Linked DNA regions of Homo sapiens. The protein of the gene in region 1 purifies or fractionates together with the protein of each later gene. This does not show direct contact. Each region holds a gene or a part of one and is shown in the gene's direction. Other genes may lie near its edges.

Region 1 (3,322 bases):
AGCCAGGTGTGGTGGTGGGCACCTGTAATCCCAGCTACTTGGGAGGCTGAGGCAGGGGAATCACTTGAATTCGGGAGGCAGAGGTTGCAGTGAGCCGAGATCGTGCCACTGCACTCCAGCCTGGGCAACAGAGCAAGACTCTGAAAAATAAATAAATAAAGTAAGTAAAAAAAATTTTTTTTTTCTTTTTGAGATGGAGTCTTGCTCTGTCGCCCAGGCTGGAGTGCAATGGTGCAGTCTCGGCTCACTGCAAGCTCTGCCTCCCGGGTTCATGCCATTCTCCTGCCTCAGCCTCCCCAGCAGCTGGGGCTACAGGCACACACCGCCACGCCCGGCTAATTTTTGTATTTTTAGTAGAGACAGGGTTTCACTGTGTTAGCCAGGATGGTCTCGATCTCCTGACCTTGTGACCCGCCCACCTCGGCCTCCCAAAGTGCTGGGATTAAAGGCGTGAGCCACTGCGCCTGGCCGTAAATATTTTTTAAATATAGGCAAGAGATCTTTAATGAATCTCAAGCAGCATTTATAAAAAATGCAATAGGACAGAGAATATCAGTGTGCATTGTGTGACGTATGGGTAAGCACTGTTTCAAGACTCTCCTGTTCCAGAACGGAGAGGCACGGTGTGCGTGCATGGGTTACACAGTACATCACAGCCGTATCGTGGGTTCTGGTCAAAAGGGCTGGCCAGCGTGGCCACAGGGCAACCTCCAGCCCAGCCGGCACCAGCAGGCCTACTGCTCTCTCCCCAGGTGTGCCGAGTGCAAGACCGTCTTCCACCAGAGCTGCCAGGCTGTGGTGAAGAAGGGCTGCCCCCGCTGTGCCCGCCGGCGCAAGTACCAGGAACAGAACATTTTCGCCTGATGCCCATCTGCTGACCCCGCTCTGAAAGCCGGGGGTGAGTGTGGCTCAGCCATCCCGGCTGGGTTTGCCATCAGCCCAGGATACTCACCGTGTCACAGCTGTGTCCCCTTGTCAGGAAGACCCTCAGATGTGGCCAGAGCACCGGCCTCCCAGAGAAAGCCCAGGAAGTCCCCGTGGTGTCCCCTGGCCCTCCCCCCACCCCTCTGCTGCAGGAGGCGTGGCCACCACCAGATGCTCCCTGTCTGGGGCAGGCAGGGCCGTTTACTCACCAGGCCCTGGCTCACCAGCGTCCCGGCGCCTCCGTTAGGGCTGCCCAAACACTGTGGAAAGGGGACTTGGGGAGCATTTTCAATTCCACATTCCTGATTAAAAGGTCTAGTTTTTTAAGGTGGGTTTTTCCCATTCATATTTCAACAGAAAGTATTTTTTTATTCTTGACCCTACGTGAGTCACCCATGAAATCCAGACATTCTCACCCCCAGCGGATGCACAGGAGCCACTCAGGCCTGGCTTAGAGGTAGCGGGTGGCTGGTGGGCAGGCCACTGCTGGGACAGGGTCTATGGGCCCACCCAGTGCCTTTCCTTGGCCCTCACTGCCAGTGCCAAACCGCCCCTCAGCAGGGCAGGGCCAGTCCTGGCGACCCCGGTTCCTCTGTGTCCTCTTTACTCCCCACCCCAGTGCGTCTCGCCTGCTGAGCCCACCGCTTTCTCAGCGTCAGAGCCCCTAGCTCTTCTCTAGCCTGGGGCCTTGGCCCCATTAGGAGAAGGAGAAATGACTGGAAACCAGCACTGTCAGCACTTTGAGCCCTCCTCGGTTTATGGAGGGTCGCCGTCTTGCCCACCCCCGATCCCCGTGCGCTCCTCACCCCTCTACAGACAGGGGCGCTGCTGCAGATGCTCCAGGCCCACCTTGGTGGGTGCCCGGGGTCACACTCTCTGCCTGACTGACCCCTGCCAGGGCACAGATAGGCAGGACCCCAGAGAGGGCAGGCAGCCACGCCCTGCACTGTGGAGAAGTGACCTGGTCCTAAGCTGTGCAGGGCGTGCGGGGGAACTGCCCTGTGGATGCAGCCACCACCTCACAAAGCCATGAATTCCCAAAGCATCACTGAACTTGCCCAGCCGGGACACTGGAGACTGAAGAAGTTCCCCGGAGCAGGACTGCCTTTGAAGGGGCCTTGGGGCTGGGGTGGGAGTCTGGAATTGTTTTCAAAGTGATGGTCAGACCCTCCAGGCTTCGGGGAAATGTGGGTTTGCTGGTCTCTCTGTCGCCTTCCCCCACCTCTCCTGGACCTAGCAGGCCCTCAGTCCTAGCTGTCTTACCTGCGCTCAGCTTGGAGTCAGGCCTCAGGTGGAGAGCCGCATGTCACTGTCAGAGATGAGCCCACCCCCACCCTTCCCTGGGGGCGATTAGCTGCTGAGTCACCCACCCAGCCTTGGAGCTGGATGCCTGTGCAGCAGAACAGAGGCAACGGTGGCAGGCAGGTGGAGGCTGCGCACAGCTTCTCCCGGTCATGGCACACACCTGTGCCCAGACGCCAATGCCTCCTAAGCCAGGAGCTGGGTTATGCACCGCCATGGCCCACATTAACGCTCCACCACAAGCCCAGCCTAGTCAGAGCCCTCATTGCCCCATCCCTGAGTGGGCAGGAGCCTGGCCTGGGGAGGGCTTGGGCCTGTGAGGATTCTCCCCGAAGGTGCCCTCGGAGGCAGCAGGTTTGAGGCCCTGGGGGGCCCGTTCCCCAGAAGCTGCCAGTGCTTTCAGATGCATTGACTCTTCCCGCCTCCCCTCCCTCAGAAAGGTAGTGCCCACACTATTTTTAAAATGTTATTTTATGCAATACACTGTTCCTAGTGAGCAGGGCTCTGGCCCTGAGGAGTCTTTGCAATGTATTGAAGGAATTGCTGCCGTGTGAGTTTTGAATGATTTTGCAGTAAAGACCTGATCTTTCTCATCACTGGTCTGGCTTCTGAATTCTAACACTGCCACGGCCAGGGGGGAGACCACCAGCCATCTGTTACCATCTGTCAGGGTCCCCTACCCTCATGTTAGTCCCTGGCACGGGGGAAGGCTTGGGAGGTCCGTGGCAAACACTTGTAGGCAGAGGGCTTGCATGCCAGGAGTGGGCAGGGAGAAGAGAGTAAGAAAACCACCTTGCCAAGCCCAGCAGTCAGGCTCTTCCTGGGGTAGGATCTCAGGGTCTCTGGGGAGGTGTACCCACACTTGTATAACAACTCAAGCTGATCCCACGCCGGTGGCTTCTTTTCCTGTGACTTAAATGTCAAAACACAGACCCTTGACACTGGATCATGTGAAACCTCAGGATACAGGGGACATTTCTCAGAGGAGAAATAAAGGAGAGATGGGGCTCAGGAAAGAAGGGTTATTTAAGTGGATCCCCCGATTCAGGGCTCATGGTTTTAGGGCTCAAAATGACTTTTACTTGGCTGCTGACCT
Region 2 (3,500 bases), on another chromosome or scaffold:
CTGAAGAGGGGCAGCCCCTACCTTTAAGGACAATTCTCAGAAGTCTTTTCTTTTTTCTCATATGTATGTATACACACACACACATATATATGTATATACACACACATACATATTTATGTAAAAAAGATTTTTTTTTTTTTTGATATGGAGTCTCGCTCTGTTGCCCAGGCTGGAGTGCAGTGGTGCGTTCTCGGCTCACTGCAAGCTCCGCTTCCTGGGTTCACGCTATTCTGCTGCCTCAGCCTCCCGAGTAGCTGGGGCTACAGGCGCCTGCCACCACACCTGGCTAATTTTTTGTATTTCTAGTAGAGACAGGGTTTCAATGTGTTAGCCAGGATGGTTTCGATCTCCTGACCTGGTGATCCGCCCGCCTCGGCCTCCCAATGTGCTGGGATTACAGGCGTGAGCCACGGCGCCCAGCCCATATTTGTATAAAATTTAATAGAGATAGGGCCTCATTGCATTGGGCCTGGCCGGATGCCGTCCTCCTGCCTTGGCCTTCCAGAGTGCTGGGATTATAGGTGTGAGCTACCACGCCCGGCCCATTACTGTTGTTTTCAGATAGCCCTGATTTAGTCTCTGGTTCTCCCTTTTCTTGCCTATAAATCAGGGAGAACACGTACTTCCTGGGGTGGATGGAAGGGCTAAGCACTTGGGTATGTCAGTGAAGCCAGGAGCCCAGAGCTGCTCAGATCTGCCTGATCTTCTCAAGCCGAGGGGGTCAGAACAGTCACTTTACCAGGTCTAGCTGCTGGGGAGGCTGGGAAATTATGTGACAAACAAAAATGAGGCTCCTCATTCAGGAAGAAGGAGGAGTGATGTTGGGATGGCCTGATTTCTCCTGTGTCCTGGGTGCTCCCTGGGAGACTGGGGAGGTGCTGGCATCGGGTGGCCGCCTCTGACTCTGTGACCCACCCACAGTCATCAGGTAATAAGAGAAGGAGGTGGGACTGGGGCCCACTCACGTTCCCTGTGTCTTCCCCGTGCCTCCCTGTTGGGGTCCACGGGCAGCCTGTCCATGGGTGCTTTGTCCTTTCAGGCTGGCGTGCAGGTGCCCAACCCACACTCCTGCCCCACAGGCACAACAGGCAGGACAGGCCCCATAGGTGGTGTGGAGTCTTGCCCAGTTGCAGGGCAGCCATGTGGGGTTGGGGTGGCCTCCTTATCCCACTGCCAGTGAGGCAATTAGTTCAAATCCCAGTTCTTCCAGGCCACAGTGTGACCCTGAGCAGGGCCGTCCCCTCTGGGCTCAGCTCTCTTTCTTTTGGGAGAAGAGACAGAGGATAAATCATAGGATTGATTATTATAATTGTGAATTATTTCAGACTGTAGCAGGTGTAGTGAAAGCATAACTAACACTGTAGCAGGTGTAGTGAAAGCATAACTAACACTGTTGCAGTTACTGAACAACTTTAAAAAGACATCTCCGACTTTCTATAACATCAACAGACCTTACAGCGAGCTTACTTTGTGCTCAGTCTCTGTTAACTCATTTCACCCTCACAATGGCCCATTACGGATGGGGAAATGGAGGCAGAGAGGCTAAGGAATGTGGCCCAGGAAGTTAAGTGGGAGGGCTGGATGCCAACTGCCTCTACTCCCACCCCAACCAAAGTCCCTTCCTCCCTGCCAGGAGCCATCAGCCCTGTGTGTTCTGCAGTGTTCTGAGCCTCCGGGTGGGGAAAGAGCAATTCTTGATCCTGAGCTTCTGCCACGTGGAGAACTAGGCCCTTCCGGCCTGTTTCCTGGGTTCCTGAGGCACAGAGCCGTGGGCCTGGTTCAGGTCGTGTTGCTCATCACAGGATCAGAACCCAGGCCAGAGAGCCTGGATGCATTTGTAGGGGGCTTCTCTGTGTGCTGGCAGGGAATCCTCCCAAGATCCCCTGCTCCTGGGCATGGGGAAGGTGGGCCCTGCTCACTCACCTGTGGCAGAGCAGGAATGGGCCCTGGAACTGTCCCCAAGTGTCCAACCCTAAGTCCTGAGACAGGGGCTGTGGTTTCAGGGTGCTCTGACAAGAAAGCACCTTTGCTTGGGGCCCAGGAAGGAGGAACCCATTTCTGAGAGGTGTGTCTCACATAGCAGGTGGATAGCAAGCTAGAGCGGGGCTGAGTGAGTATCTGGGGCTGAGGCCCAGAGAGGATCCCATAGGTAGCTCTAGGGCTGGAGCTCTGCAACATTGGGCAAGAGGACCCTGTGCTGGGAGGCAGGGAGCTTGGGCCCCTCAGATGGGCCACGTGCCCTCGTGGGACCCTCATTGTCACCGTGAGCTCTTTCCAAGGGGACGCCACCAGTGGGGGCCTGGGCAGGAGGCAGCTGAGGTGTTTCAGGAAAAGGCTGAAGATCAAGGCTGTGGTGTGAGGACTACCCACTTTAGGGAAGTGAAAGAGGCCAGCCTCACCCCAGACACCCCAGTGTGGTTGGGGAAAGGGGGTGGTCCGTGGTGAGCCTGGTACCTGGGGACTCATCCTGGCCCTGCCTGGCCCTCAGGTGGGATGCTATGGAATATGATGAGAAGCTGGCCCGTTTCCGGCAGGCCCACCTCAACCCCTTCAACAAGCAGTCTGGGCCGAGACAGCATGAGCAGGGCCCTGGGGAGGAGGTCCCGGACGTCACTCCTGAAGGTGGGTGCTGGTGGGAGTCAGGGTGGGAGCTGGGCAGGTCTCTGACTGCTTACGTGGACCCCTCCTTTCTTCCTGCCGCGTCCTGCGCAGCCCTGGCTTTCCCACGGAGCCGGCACCTGCTGGCTGTGTTCTTTTTCCCATCTCTTCTGTGGTCGTGTGGTTTGTTTCTGTGTCCCCACTAGAATTCACATTCCTGAGGGCAAGATTTGTGCCTGACCCATCACTGCTGCATCCTAGGGCCCAGCACATAGTAGGTGCTCAGGGAACACTTGCTGAGTGCGGTCAGCGCTGAGACCTGGTAAGGGAGAGGTTAGCCGAGGGAACGTGCTCTGGGCGTCAGGGTGGCATGAGCTTTAGAAACTGCAGATGAGGTCATCAGGGAGTGCTTGGAGCGGGGCAGCTGCAGAGACGGCCTGGAGTCGACACTGGGGTTCGTGGATTTTGCTGTGTAGCCATGCAGTGGTTTTTCTCTCGCCCCCGTGGTCACGCATGAGGTGTCCACCTTAGAAATGGGATGTCTCTATAATGCTGTCTTGAGGACTTTTGGCACCGAGTGTCATTCCACCTCCTCATTTTGAGTGGCTCTTTCCTGTCTACACAAGGCTGTGGGCTCCTCTGTGAATGCAGACTGGACGGTGTGCAGATCTGAGTGGTGCCCAGCTCTCACGGTGCCTCCTTTCTGTGCGGCTTCCTGAATCCCTTTCCCACTCCTGGCTATCTCAGCTCCTCCCTAGGGGATGGGAGGCAGGAGGTAGCAGCTGACGCTCCACACCTGTCCCCGTCTTCCTCCAGAGGCCCTGCCTGAGCTGCCCCCTGGGGAGCCGGAATTCCGCTGCCCTGAACGCGTGATGGATCTCGGCCTGTCTGAGGACCACTTC
Region 3 (3,500 bases), on another chromosome or scaffold:
TACTCTAGGAAGTGGAAAGGACAGTGTAAAAGGACAGCAAGAATGTTGTGCCACAAGGCCGGTGCAGTAGGCAGAGACCAAAAGCATTTAGGGTTTTGTAGGTTATACTAAGAGCAGCTGAAGACCATTAGAGGGTTTTAAGCAAGGAAGGATAGCCTGGTCAAGGTTGTGTTGTAGAAAGATTTTTACTCTGGTATTCTATAAAGCAAAATTTCTGAAGGACCAGGGGAAAGATGAATAAAAGAAAAGCCTCCAGCACCACACACCAGATATGTTGTATACCTTAATTTACTGAAATCAGTTTTCAGAGGCTTGAGACTATCCTCTGTGTGGTAGCACTTGGAAGCCTGAGTGAGGAGACAAGATGATAAATAATTGGGTTGATCTAGGACTGGGGAAAGGCAAACCCAAAGTGGCAAGGAAATGAAGACATTGAGGGTGCTAGTAAGAATATTGAAATGATTGATCTTGGGCTTGAGAAATGCTAAAGAAGGAAATAAAACCAGTATAAGAATTCCTAAATCAGTGGTCCCCAACCTTTTTGGCACCAGGGACCAGTTTCATGGAAGACAATTTTCTCACGGATGAGGGGTGGGGGTGTGGTTTCAGGATGATTCAAGCGCATTACATTTATTGTGCACTTTATTTCTATTTACATTGTACTATACAATGAAATAATTATACAACTCACCGTAATGTAGAATCAGTGGGAGCCCTGAGCTTGTTTTCCTGCAACTAGATGGTCCCATATGGGAGTGATAGGAGACAGTGACAGATCATCAGGCATTAGATTCTCACAAGGAATGCACAACCTAGATCCCTCTCTTGCACAGTTCACAATAGGGTTTGCACTCCTGTGAGAAACTAATGCTGCTATTGATCTGACAGGAGGCGGAGCTCAGGCAGCAGTGTGTGAGATGAGTGGCTGTAAATAACAGATGACGCTTAGCTCCCTTGCCTGCTGCTCACCTCCTGCTGTGTGGCCTGGTTCCTAACAGGCCAGGGAGCAGAACTGGTCTGCGGCCCTGGGAGTTGGGGACCCCTGGTCTAAATTATATGAGTCTATGAAGTTTTAGACTGGTAATTCCCAACTGAAACTTTTGCAAGATCAAAAAGAAAAGCAATTATGTTTGAGTTGAACTATTTAGTGTATCCTTATTAGGAGTCTATGCCAGGCTCTATATATGGCACTAAGGATAGAGAGGTAAGTGAACCATAGCTTTACCTTATGAGAACTGACAACAGAGTTGTACAGATGCCAATTGCAATGAAGATTTTAAGTATGTTCATTCTTTTTGAATCTATTACCTTTTGCCAGCCTCTGTTAGAAACAGGCATTTAAATTTTTGTAGGCAACCTTAATTATTGAAACACCATTTTTAACTATAGCTATATTTAGTTCGTGTGCTTCTACTGCTAGAATATTTATTTTTTTCAAAAATTCTACTTTAACACTTATTCAAAGTTTGTAGAAGCGAAAACTGAAAGAGCCTCTAATGATCACTTAATCCACTTTCTCAGAGTGTGGTATGTGTGTACCACTGGTCATAAACAGGATGCTTTGTAGATAAAACACAATCAAGCCTTTTTAATAGTTATATATTTCAGTGTAGGTTAAAAATATATTTAGCATAGCATACCATGATTCATGGACCTTATGAAGAGATTAAAGTCAATTTTCAGATTTTAAAAATGAGTCAGTTTAAAGAAAAATATTAATGGCATAGGTGTTACATGACTGAAGTTTGGGAAATACTAATCTAAACCAGCTCCTACATTGTGTAGATGAGAAAACAAAGGGGTTCCCCACACACAATGACTTTTCTGAGGCATATAACTAATATACGGCAGAGCTAGGACTAGAACTCAGGTTCGTTCAGTACATTCCAGTGTTTATTCTGCCATACAAGGCTGATGCTTATTACTAAAGTTGAAGAAACCGCTGTCTTAGTATGACATTGTACTTTAAATCTCCATTGTTCATTACGATGACCACATATGGTTATTTATATTAAAATTTGTTAAAATTAAGGTTTAAAATTTGAATTAGTCACATTTCTAGTGCTCAGTAGCTACATGTGGCTAGTGGCTACCATATTGGACAGCATGAACATGAAACATTTCTGTCATTGCAGAAAGTTTTATTGGGCAGTGCTGCTTTAAACTATTGCTTAGGAATATGATTCATAAGTTTTCCCCCCTTCAAAGGGATAATACTTATTAATTTGCTTACCACACTGAAGTTGTTATAACTCTGAAGTTAAGCTGAAGGTACTAGTAACAGTGCAATTAAGATAATTGATCATGGGAAATATAGCCAGGATGGGATTCTCAGATTCCTACCAGCTCATTTTATTGGAAGTGGTTGTTCTTTCTCCTTTTTTTTCAATAAATATTTTCTTGAATTCATAGCAGATAGAGAGAAGAAATACAAATATATTGAAAAAGAGGGTTCTTGAATAGAGAATTTTCTGACTTTCTGAATAGTTTATTCAACGTAAGAATTATATTTTGCTGATATTTTAAAACTTTTTATTTTTAAACATTTTCAGTGAATGGACCTGAGTGGACCCTTTGATCACATCAGTAAACATGAGCGGTACCAAACCTGATATTTTATGGGCACCACACCATGTTGATAGATTTGTTGTGTGTGACTCAGAACTAAGTCTTTATCATGTGGAATCTACTGTGAATTCAGAACTCAAAGCTGGATCTTTACGTTTATCTGAAGACTCTGCAGCTACATTACTGTCAATAAATTCAGATACACCCTATATGAAATGTGTTGCCTGGTATCTTAATTATGATCCTGAATGTCTGCTGGCAGTTGGACAAGCAAATGGTCGAGTTGTACTTACAAGCCTTGGTCAAGATCATAACTCAAAGTTCAAAGATTTGATAGGAAAAGAGTTTGTTCCAAAACATGCACGACAATGTAATACCCTTGCCTGGAATCCACTGGATAGTAACTGGCTAGCTGCTGGTTTAGATAAGCACAGAGCTGACTTTTCAGTGCTAATATGGGATATCTGCAGCAAATATACTCCTGATATAGTTCCCATGGAAAAAGTGAAACTTTCAGCAGGTGAAACTGAAACAACATTATTAGTAACAAAACCACTTTATGAGTTAGGACAGAATGATGCTTGTCTGTCTCTTTGTTGGCTTCCACGAGACCAGAAACTTCTCCTTGCTGGTATGCATCGTAACCTAGCTATATTTGATCTTCGGAATACAAGCCAAAAGATGTTCGTAAATACAAAAGCTGTTCAGGGTGTGACGGTAGACCCATATTTCCACGATCGTGTTGCTTCCTTCTATGAAGGTCAGGTTGCAATATGGGATCTTAGAAAATTTGAGAAGCCAGTTTTGACATTGACTGAGCAACCAAAACCCTTAACAAAAGTAGCATGGTGTCCCACTAGGACTGGTCTACTTGCCACTTTAACAAGGGATAGTAATATTATTAGATTGTATGATATGCAGCATACACCCAC
Region 4 (3,500 bases), on another chromosome or scaffold:
TGTCCCCTCTAGGGCCAGGAGCTGACTATCCGCCAGATCTCCCTGCTGGGCTTCCGAGACCTAGTCTTGCTGAAGGTGAAGCTGGGTGACCTGCTGCTGCTGGCCCAGTCCAAGCTGCCCTCGTCCATTGTCCAGATGTTGCTCATCCTGCAGGTGAGGCTGTGCTGGAGACTTGCCCCAAGGCAGAGGGAGGGAGCGAGGGAAGAGATTGCCTTTCTGAGATGAGGGGGAAGGAACCTAGTGACCAGAGCACCTTAGCTTGGCTTACTACTATTTAGTTTGTTGGCCCGTGTTCATTCATTCATTCATTTGTTCATTTGAGGTGCATTCACTGAGCACCTGTTAGGTCCTGGTGCTGTGCTTGGTGCCAGGACCACACTGGGGAGTGAGGGAAGCATAGTCTTTCATTCAGGAAGTAGATGCCCTTTTCCCCTCTCCAGTGATGCCAGGGAGCCACAAGTTGCAAGTCACAGCAAAGAATACACTTTGGCCTAGCTTAAGCAGATGAGGAACTCCCTGAAAAGCTCCTAGGGCAGATGGACTTCAGGAGGGATTACAACCAGGAATGAGGCTGTCTCAGGCCATGAAGCCACCATCCTTTCTCTACTTTCTAGTCTCTACTTGTATCTGGGCTACTTTGTCTGTCTTCATCTTATCCTATCTTTCCTGGACTTGGTCTTTTTCTCCCTGCAGGCTTATGTTCTGTGTTTGGTTTGTACCTGATCGAATGTGACACCTCACAGCTGATGTGCTTCCAGTAAGAGACTGCCCAGTGGCTGCCTAGTGTCACTCAATCCCAATTCTAAATCAATACTAGGAATTTGAGCTAACACATATTGGTCCTTGGCTATGTGCCGGGCACAGGCCAAGGACGTTAAGTGTGTTGTTTCCTTAATCAGATAATCCAGACAATCACTGTATGAAGTAGGCATTGTTATTCCCATTTTAGAGGTGAGGAAAATGAAACCTAGTAAGTTTGTGTGCTTGCCTGAGGTCCCTCAGTTAGGAAGAGGCAGTAAGATTTGGAATTATGCACACTGTGCTTCCTCCCCAGAGGAAATAATTTAATTGGTCCAGCTTGGGCTAGATGATTCCTCTTTGCCCAATCAGCCATGACCCTTGAATAAGATCAAGCAGTATAAACATGGCCTTGGCAAACTCATTCCTATGGGTGGGGGCACACAATTCTCGACGAGTAGGGTTTTTGGCTAGGGACACCCCCAAGAGGTGACTACTATGCCTCTTCACCTCTGTAACAAGTTCAGATGCTGCAGCATTAGCTCTGAGCCCTTCCTCAGGGAAGATGGCTTCATCCTTGATCAGGCTAGTGATGACCCCTTGCTGCCCTCACAGCAGTGATGGAATGTCAGGCATTGGGGCCCCAATCCTTCCCCCACATCCCCCAGCTGGTGCTCTCTTTCAGTCCTTGAAGCTGGGCCATCCTTCTGGGCATTCTCCCCCTTTCCTGTAATTAGAGAGGAGGAAGAGTTGCCTAATAGGATGAGGGTGGGTGTAATTGGCCGGAATGCCAGGTCAAGTATTTTTATGGAAGAGATGGAGAAGGAGGGGGATAGAAAAATGCATGTGGGGCTCGGGTCTGAGAAGCCTTAATTAGAGCATGCTTCCTGAATAAGGAGTCTTGAAAATGAGCCCTTTGGGATTCTGATAGGAAAATTCGGAAAGTTGGGCTCCCATCTTCCCATATCAGTTTATAATAGTTTAGGGCTGAGAAGCGATTCCTTTGTGTTTTGGGCGGTGGCGGTTTGTTTGGTTTTGTGGGAAGGAGAATTGATCCAGTCCTGCAGGTGAAGACTCTCACCTGTTGCTGCTGGAACAGGAGGGCCTGTGTCTATCACATTCCAACATTCCGGGCCCTGTGCCAGGTAGCCCTGCAGCCATATGAGAAAGCTGTCATCATACCCCTGAGTCCCCAAAGACAGGTGAGACTGCTTGCCCAGGAGAATCTACCCTCATGCGCTCTGGTCCCCACCCCCATTTGCTCTCCATGGGACGGCCTCAAACTCTTCAGTGGTTTCCAATCGATCTTAGAAAAACAGCCCAAGTCTGTACCCTGGCCTTCAGCATCTCCCACCCTTCCATCCCTGCCTGGAACCTGACTTACTCACTTTTCTGGTCTTCTTGGCTTCTCCTGGCTGCCGTGGGATCTTTGTGATCACCATTCCTCCTGCTCAGAACACTTTGTCTTCTGGGGTCCTCAAGCCCCTGTCTAATCAAGGCAGGTCAATGTTTTCTCCTTGCCCTTGTGCCCTCAGCACCCAGCATAGTCTTTGGCACATAATAGGTATTAATTAAACACTGTCCAGGGAATATAGCACCAGCTAGTAGAAGGTTGAGCAGGACTGATGCTGGGTCCCTGACCTCACACCCATGTTGGTGACCGTCATGTAGGGCTTCTTCTCTTGGCAGAGGGAAGTACAGTCAAAGAAGCTCTGGGATCATGGCGAATTTCCAGAAAGTCAGGCAAGGAAATGGTTCCTCCTGTGTCTATACCATTATTTTTCCCATCTCACAGCTGAGATGGAGGTTCAGAGAAGGTGGCGACTTTTCTCAAGGTCTTGTACTCATTTATTAAGAGAGCTGGATTGCTCCCCATCCCTTAGCCCTTATCTTCCTACCTCCACTTAGCCTTTCTAGGCAACTACTGCCTCCCTTCTGCAGTCTCCCAGGGTACTTGGAAACGCCCCACAGGCATCCTACAGACCATTAAAGATCGTCCCTCTCTCCTGCAGGGCATCTGGCATCACTTCCCCTGAGGGCTTCCTGGGAATGTTGCCTTTGGCCCATGTTCTTCCTTGCCAGGAGCTCTAGAGCCTGGGGCTGGGGATGTGACTGTGAAGAACCCGGATCTTTCCCCGGCCCAAGTCCATCTTGAGCAGCAAGGGCGATGGCCTCTGGATCTGAATGGAACTTCCAGGTGGCACTGCCCTGGGGCCATATCTGCTACAGGAAATTTGGGCCTCCGTACTTAGAATTGTCCATTCTCTCCCTAGACATGCACTTTCCACAGTGCCATGAGACCTGGGGCTGATATTTTTCAAAACTACCTGACCCTACTACAGAGAAAAGAGCTCTTTCTTAGGCCTTCAGCTCCGTCTTTTCTGTCGCTCTTCCACAATGTCCCTGACCCAACTCCACCCTTCCCAAGTTGTACAAATACTCCTACAGTGGGCCATGTGCTCTGCCTTCAAACTGCCCCAGTGAGAGGCAGAATCGGAGATATTGACCACTGTGAAGATCTGTTTCCTCCCAGCTGATGCAGACAGGTCCTGAGACCACCGGAATGGTGCATTCTCAGGGGCCCCAGCCAGGCAGGGTGTGCAGCCTGTACTCAGAGGACCCTGAGCTTGGTTTTATTTTCTCCCATCAGCATTTGACACTCTTAATGATTTTTGAACACGAGGCCCTGCATTTTCATTTTACGCTGGACCACACAAATTCCATAGCTGTTTGGCAGCCAAGCCAAGGGCTGAGGACAGCAC

The links. The genes of interacting proteins can lie anywhere in the genome.
Region 2: the proteins of PLEKHM1 (region 1) and DEF8 purify together in Homo sapiens (affinity purification with western blotting; one study listed by BioGRID). This does not show direct contact.
Region 3: the proteins of PLEKHM1 (region 1) and MIOS purify together in Homo sapiens (affinity purification with mass spectrometry; one study listed by BioGRID and IntAct). This does not show direct contact.
Region 4: the proteins of PLEKHM1 (region 1) and PRR5L purify together in Homo sapiens (affinity purification with mass spectrometry; one study listed by BioGRID and IntAct). This does not show direct contact.

The regions. Positions count from the first base shown.
Region 1 is NC_000017.11:45,435,400-45,438,721, reverse strand, and holds the end of PLEKHM1 (pleckstrin homology domain-containing family M member 1), read left to right. Parts: intron 1-752; coding exon 753-864; 3' UTR 865-2,822; downstream 2,823-3,322. UniProt on the Homo sapiens protein: Acts as a multivalent adapter protein that regulates Rab7-dependent and HOPS complex-dependent fusion events in the endolysosomal system and couples autophagic and the endocytic trafficking pathways.
Region 2 is NC_000016.10:89,951,755-89,955,254, forward strand, and holds part of DEF8 (differentially expressed in FDCP 8 homolog), read left to right. Parts: exon of another isoform or gene 1-928; intron 929-1,622; exon of another isoform or gene 1,623-1,766; intron 1,767-2,488; coding exon of another isoform or gene 2,489-2,498; coding exon 2,499-2,622; intron 2,623-3,414; coding exon 3,415-3,500. UniProt on the Homo sapiens protein: Positively regulates lysosome peripheral distribution and ruffled border formation in osteoclasts. Involved in bone resorption.
Region 3 is NC_000007.14:7,569,884-7,573,383, forward strand, and holds part of MIOS (GATOR2 complex protein MIOS), read left to right. Parts: intron 1-2,552; 5' UTR 2,553-2,592; coding exon 2,593-3,500. UniProt on the Homo sapiens protein: As a component of the GATOR2 complex, functions as an activator of the amino acid-sensing branch of the mTORC1 signaling pathway. The GATOR2 complex indirectly activates mTORC1 through the inhibition of the GATOR1 subcomplex.
Region 4 is NC_000011.10:36,446,288-36,449,787, forward strand, and holds part of PRR5L (proline-rich protein 5-like), read left to right. Parts: intron 1-12; coding exon 13-153; intron 154-3,500. UniProt on the Homo sapiens protein: Associates with the mTORC2 complex that regulates cellular processes including survival and organization of the cytoskeleton.